Linked DNA regions of Homo sapiens. The protein of the gene in region 1 purifies or fractionates together with the protein of each later gene. This does not show direct contact. Each region holds a gene or a part of one and is shown on either strand. Other genes may lie near its edges.

The links.
Region 2: the proteins of DYNC1I1 (region 1) and AMBRA1 purify together in Homo sapiens (affinity purification with western blotting, with the first as the bait; one study listed by BioGRID). This does not show direct contact.

What each region holds. Positions count from the first base shown.
Region 1 is NC_000007.14:96,034,336-96,038,158, forward strand, and holds part of DYNC1I1 (cytoplasmic dynein 1 intermediate chain 1), read left to right. Parts: intron 1-1,283; coding exon 1,284-1,417; intron 1,418-3,823. UniProt on the Homo sapiens protein: Acts as one of several non-catalytic accessory components of the cytoplasmic dynein 1 complex that are thought to be involved in linking dynein to cargos and to adapter proteins that regulate dynein function.
Region 2 is NC_000011.10:46,398,946-46,402,323, reverse strand, and holds part of AMBRA1 (activating molecule in BECN1-regulated autophagy protein 1), read left to right. Parts: intron 1-3,378. UniProt on the Homo sapiens protein: Substrate-recognition component of a DCX (DDB1-CUL4-X-box) E3 ubiquitin-protein ligase complex involved in cell cycle control and autophagy.

The DNA.
Region 1 (3,823 bases):
CACTATTTAGGAATTTTTAATTGCCCATTTTGCTCATTACACATATTTATTTAGGTTAAAACCAGTAATATGGTGGCTCTAAGTCCGTTTGTATTAGTTTTAGCATGCTCACAGACTCCTGTGTCTATACAAAGATGGAGGATTTCGTGACATGGCTTCCATGGATGGCAGGGAGGAATAGGGGCATCCAACAGTTGGCCTGGTCTTTCTCTCTCCCAAATGGGTAAAGGGACTTTTCCTTCCTTGCTGCTAATTTTAGTGATGAAGCAGATCATTGGATGATCCAGTTATCTGTATGACATAGTCACAGCATCCTCTCCTTTATCCCAGTTGCTGATGTGCACCCTATGTGTGGATATCACAAACTTTGAACACATCACAGGATCAGAATCAGTCTGTGTTGCTTAGACTGTTAGCTTGCACTTTCAATTTAATGGACTCCTTGGCTGAAATAGTTTATTTGCACAAGAAAGACTAAACTCTCAAGCAACTATAATGATATGATACCTCAGAATGATTTTTTAAAAATTATTTCAGATGCACAAAATAGGCTATTTGATGTAAATAGCCAGAAATACTCAGGGATATTAGTTATAATTGATTATTCTTTTCTGTCATTAAACTTAACTCAGCAGTATATCTTTTAAGATTAGGAATCTTTAATTCTCAATTTTAAAAAATCATATTATAAAATAAAGACTCCCATTTGCTATTTTAAAGACGTATTTAAATATTGTTCTTTTCAGGCTTATAGCCTATTCACCCAATGGCTGCCCTGCATGAAATCTAGTCCCTGTTGAAATCTGGTTTTTATGACCTGAGTGACAACTTTCTGGTTTTAGTCCATGGAGGACACATACTCCTGCTTTGACAAATTTGCTTAGTACATCTGATATTAATACATGTGTATTCTCACAAACAATTGATTTTGAAAATGTTTGTAAATACAAGGGTATTGTGTGTTTTATTAAAGCTTGGAGCTGACAAGTGTAACCATTATTATCTTTAGTTTCTGCACCATTAGTTTCAAAATTCTCACCTGTCATCTTTGCCTGACTTAAGAAGCAGCAGCACATGCTGATGAAATCCAGCCGGCTTGAAACCAGAGATCCACAGAAGCATGAATGTCAGGGGCAGTAAAGCATGGTTTCTGGCACAGCCGGGGTCTTTTGTAACGCTGTGTGAAAAGCAAACACATGATTTAGCCAAATGATTTTTCCGTGCTATCTTTGGCATGGCAAGGAGTTGACAGATGGAAATGTAACCACACCGTGTTTTGGTAGGAGAGCATGGAGCTGGTGTACAATAAGTCCAAGCCTGTCGCTGTTACCGGAATGGCTTTCCCAACGGGAGACGTCAATAACTTCGTGGTTGGCAGTGAGGAAGGTACAGTCTACACGGCTTGTCGTCATGGAAGGTGATTTTTCTGTTTCTTTACTGATGACATGTTCTTCATTTCCGAAAGTCTGTTATCACATTCTGGATTTTAACCACCTTGCATTATGAGAAAGCATCTCTGGAAAAATGGAAAGCACGACTTCAACTCTTCATTATCTTAAAGAGCTGCATCTGCTCTGGTCATTAGCTGTTCATAAGACTGTGGTGGTTCACACTGCCTTGAGGGAAAAAAGCTCGAGCTTCTGAGCCTATCATAACAGACCACTTGCACCTTCCCAGCATCTCCGCATACCTTCAGGGTCTAGCCATGTGCCCATCAGAGATAACAATCCCCAAATATTTCTTATCCCTCCATGCCTCAATGAGTTTGCATACTCAACTTCTTTTACCAGTTCTAGCATTTCTCCCTTTTTGGCCTGGTTAATTCCTCCTCATCATTCAAGAGCCAGCACAGAGATCATTCCATGTGAAACATTTTCTGACTCTTGGGCAAAGAAAACCACTCCCACCTTTAAGTCCCATAGAATTTTCAATTCTCTTATTCATTCACTCTTCCAAGGAATATTTACTAAGAACCTACCATGTGCCAGGCATCATCAAAAGGATACATTAAAGAACAAGACAGACCTAGAGTTCATATTCTAGTTGAGGGTAAAATACTAATAAGCAAATAAATATATAGTTTAGGATGGTAAGTGCAATGGAGAAAATTAAAGTAGAATAAGTGGGATAGGACTATAGGCTGTCAAGTTGACAATTTCATATATTTTCCTTATGCTTCTATAATAGCATTAATCGTATTTTAGTTTATTCATTCATCTGCCATTTTTCTCTTACTACATTATTTCCATTTCATCTTTGATTTCCTGCACAGTACCTAGGACATAGTAAGTGAGGAGCTAAAAATATATATTGGGGATAAAGAAATGATATATAATGTAATCCATCCAATCTAAAGAAGTGCCTTAAAAGCTTTCCTCCCAGTCAGATGGGTCAGAACAGAGTGAGTCACACAAACCACCATGCAGTTCCCAGGTGATAAGAACTCTACCTTAACTGAGAGATTCACAATGCCCCTGGAAAAGAGTTGTCAGTATAAAGTGGAATCCAATAGTTTGGACTAGATTGTAAAATTGCATGCAAAACTTAACAGGTGGCCTCATGTCTTTTGAAAGGGTCACTATGTTCACACTGGTGCTTAATTTGTCTTTTACTTTAGTAGTTCTTATTCCATTGATTTTTTTTCATCTCTTGCACTCATCCGAGGCTATTAAGATTTAATGAAGAACCACAAATTGTTCCAAGTTCATATCCCTGTGTTTTTGTGATTTGTAGAAATGACAAGCATCCATGGCTCAGCTATGTGACTTTTTCCATTCAAACTATACAAGCTGTTATGTTCCTGCTGTTCTGCACGTAGAAACAAGCAGTATTTGTCCCCTCACATGATTCAAAGATGACTTAGGAAGATATGCCTCACAGTCCATTCCCAATGATCCTCCTTCATAAACCCTGGCTAAAACCACACATTAAAGCTTTATCAAAGCATAAAAATATTTGATAAAGTTATTCATTCATAAATATATTTGTTGTATGCCTACTTTGAGCAAAGTGCATTGTTAGGTTCTGCAAGGCCTGCAGACGTCATGTAAACCTGGTTTCTCTCTTCAAAATAACTGATGACGGTGAGAAAGATAAATACACAAATATCTGGAACATGAGTAGAATGTCTTAAGTGGCATGAGAGGCATAGAGAGTATAGTAGGCCAGACCTGGAGTCACAGCTTTATCTATATGCGTATTAGAATCAACATGGCATAGGTTCAGTTAACTTAACCCATGGTTTTACCTAGGTCCTTGATTATCTACGAAGGCTATAGAATACATTCATTGATAATTTCCAGATTTTTTTCATTGCTATAAAGTGAATAACATTTTACATGATGAACATTCTTGTTCTGTGGCTACTGTACTTTCTAAGCACTATCAGAATATGCACTTTGGTTCAAAAGAAGGGTCCCTATGGCACACACCACAAATCTTTTTACAACAAGCTGAATTTTGCTTTACATTGGTCCATCCATCTGAAATATAAAATACAGACCTTAGTAACATTGTAACGTAGCAGGCATTGGCTTTGTAGTCATTCTAAATGGGTCATATAGGTCTATGGGGGAGAAGCAGGGGATTGCTATTTTTCACCTAACATAGAGAAGGTGCAAATCCACTTCCATAAATTAAACAAGGTCCTCATTTTGCACCCTATAAATCCTTTCAGGATGCTGTTAAGAGCAAGTGGAGTCTCACCAGGGGCCACTTCAAAGATCAGTTCCTCGGGTTCATTAGAACAAATTTAAATGATCATGTGTGGAACTGCTCTTAGCAGTTTCACTGGGCATAATTTTTGAGTGCCTGTTACATGGAA
Region 2 (3,378 bases), on another chromosome or scaffold:
TTCCAAGCATCCTTAAGTCTGGAGCCCCTGTGAGGAGCCTGGGAGCCCTTTTATTAATACATACATGTATTTGACAAATACACGCCCAGTGTAAACCCACGTGTTAGACTTGGCTGAAAAGAGAATACAGCTGAGTCCAAGACCTTCAGGAACTTATAGGCCAGAAGAGAGATGCCACAGCTACGGGGAGTTGTGAAGCACTGTGAGGTCCCAGAGAAGGAGCATCCCCTTCTAGCTGGGGGACCAGAGAGAAGTGGGTGGCAGAGGAGATGGGACGAGAGCATGGCACAGTGTGCACAGTGTATGCCCATCTGTGCAGGCAGGGAGCAGGGCTGCCGGGTACCTGCAGGAATGTGGGGGACAGGGCAGGAAGGTCTGCAGCATGATAAGGGTCTGGCCAGAGAGCCCTCAAATGTCAAGCTAAGGAGTTTTGACTACTGTGAGGGCTTTTGCAGCTGCTGGGTTTTGAACAGGGTGCAGACTTAACCAGAGCTCAAGTCAGCAGAGCTGAATTAGGATGGTAATAGGAACAGTGTGGAGACTAGACGGAAGGGGAGGAGACTGGAAGCAAGAAGCCCAGTTAGGACACAGTCATAGCCATAGAGAGGGGTGGCCAGGCCTGGAGCCATAGGCAAGCAAGCAGTGGGCTCAGACTTGAGTGCCAGCAGCAGGGCCTCCCGCAGAGCCTGGGAAAGCCCATCCGGGGCTCTCTGGGGGCTTGGCTGCAGCAGCACCCATAGGGCCCCAAGGCAGCCTGTTCTGCCCCTGGTAATCTACTTGAGAAGAGCTGAGCTGGGTGCGGTGGCTCATGCCTCCCAGAACTTTGGGAGGTCCAAGTGGGTGGATCACAAGGTCAGGAGTCTGATACCAGCCTGGCCAGCATGATGAAACACTGTCTCTACTAAAAATACAAAAATTAGCTGGGTATGGTGGCACATGCCTGTAGTCCCAGCTACTCGGGAGGCTGAGGCAGGAGAATTGCATGAACCCGGGAAGTGGAGGTTGCAGTGAGCTGAGATCATGTCACTGCACTCCAGTCTGGGCGACAGAGCGAGACTCTGTCTCGAAAAGAGCTGAGAATTCACTAGGCACAGCGCCTGGCACAGTGCACTCCAATGCCAGCAGGCCTCAGGCCAGCCACAGCACGCCCCAGACCATGCTGCGAGGGCTTCAGTGCACAGAGTTCTGAGAAAGCATTGGGGCTACAGTGAGCACAGGGAGGGCCCCAGGGGACCTCCCCAGGCAGCCCTTGGCTCCCAGGGTAGAATCTCTGTGGGCACCAAGGCCGTAGGTTGACTTTTTTCTTCTTACCTTCTGCCCCACTGTTAGAAGGCTTTAAAACCTGAAGATGGGGTTGACCCAGTACTCTGAGAGCCCTTCAGGTTTTCTCTCCTTCTGCCCTGGGAGCTGGAGCCGGGTGTCCCAGGAGGAAGTGGGGAAGGGCAGCCACCTTGAGGGATGGAGGGCAGTGCTTTATCAGGGGTTGTCCAGAAAAGCAAGAGAGGACATAATGCTGAGGAAGATCGTCTAAGACTGGGGCTGGGCGCAGTGACTCACCCATGTAATCCCAGCATTTTGGGAGGCCAAGGCAGGAGGATTGCTTGAGCCCAGGAGTTCAAGACCAGCCTGGGCAACACGGCGAAACCGTCTCTGCAAAAAGTACAAAAAATTAGCCAGGAGTGGTGCTTGCCTGTACTCCCTACTACTCAGGAGGCTGAGGTGGGTGGATCACTTGCACCCAAGAGGCTAAGCTACAGTGAGCCATGTTTGTACCATTGCACTCCAGTTTAGGTGACATAGCGAGACCTGGTCTCAAAAAAAAAAAAAAAAAAAAAAAAAAAAAAAAAAAACTATAGAAAGAACTAGAAGCATGAGGCTGCCAAGTACCAACAAGAAGGGTGAGAGATCTCTTGGGGCCTTAGATGCCACCAAGCTGTGAAACTGGCTGGCCTGGAAATCCAACTCTAATGAGGCAGGCAGAGAGAAGGGGATGGATGGGGTTAGGGGAGCAAAGAAAGTCTCATAAAAATAGCTGCTGGCAAGTACCCCAAAAGGAAAGAAAACTCACCATCAAAACCCCCAAAACTGCAAAATTCCAAACAGTAGCTGATGGAGACAAATCAGCAGTTCAGTGGAGCCATCCCTCGCAGCCTCAGAGCCTTGATCATAGTTGCCCACGGTCTTGGCCTGGTTCTCACCCTACCAAGAGCTGAGCAGAAAGCTGGAAGGGAGGTCCCACAGCAATAGAGCTCCACTGCTGCAGACCCCAAGTTAATCACAACAGGCACCGTTGACCAAGTGCCTGGGCTGTGCGTTAGCTCCTTTTCTCTCTCCAGCACCGTGCAAGGTAGATGTTAGGGATTTTTTTCAAGGTCACCCAGCAAGCAAGTGACAGCTGAGATTTGAGCCGAAGTCTTTTCTGTTCCCACACAAGGGAATGCTCAGGCATTTCTGCAGAGGGAGTGGCGGACAGATCCTTCTCTCCCTCCCTAGACCTGGGTCCTGTGCTGGTCAGTTGACTCTTTTCCGGGAAATATGGCATCAGGCATTGAGCCCCAGGAGAACAATAACTGGGGAATAGCTTGTGAAGACTGGGGGGTAAAGGGAAAGAAGAGAAGGAAACAGCCCTTCCAAGGAACAGTTAAAACTCTCAGCTTCTGACCAGGCACGGTGGCTCACGCCTGTAATCCCAACACTTTGGGAGGCCTAGGTGGGCGGATCGCCTGAAGTCAGGAGGTCGAGAGCAGCCTGGCCAACATGGTGGAACCCCATCTCTACTAAAAATACAAAAAATTAGCCAGGTGTGGTGGGAGCCTGTAATCCCAGCTACTCAGGAGGCTGAGGCAGGAGAATCGCTTGAACCTGGGAGGTGGAGGTTGCAGTGAGCCAAGATTGTGCCACTGCACTTCAGCCTGAGTGACAAGAGCAAAACTCCATCTCAAAAAACAAAGGCTGGGCACGGTGGCTCATGCCTATAATCCCAGCCTTTTGGGAGGCTGAGGCAGGCAGATTACCTGAGGTCAGGAGTTCGAGACTGGCCTGGCTAACATGGTGAAACCCCGTCTCTACTAAAAATACAAAAATTAGCTGGGTGTGGTGGCGGGCACCTGTAATCCCAGCTACTCGGAGGCTGAGGCGGAAGAATGGCTTGAACCCAGGAAGTGGAGGTTGCAGTGAGCTGAGATCGCATCATTGCACTCCAGCCTGGGCGACTAGAACAAAACTCCATTTCAAAAAAATAAATAAATATGGCCAGGCGTGGTGGCTCACGCCTGTAATCCTAGCACTTTGGGAGGCCGAGGAGGGTGGATCACCTGAGGTCAGGAGCTCGAAACCAGCCTGGCCAACATGGGGAAACACCATCTCTACTAAAAATAC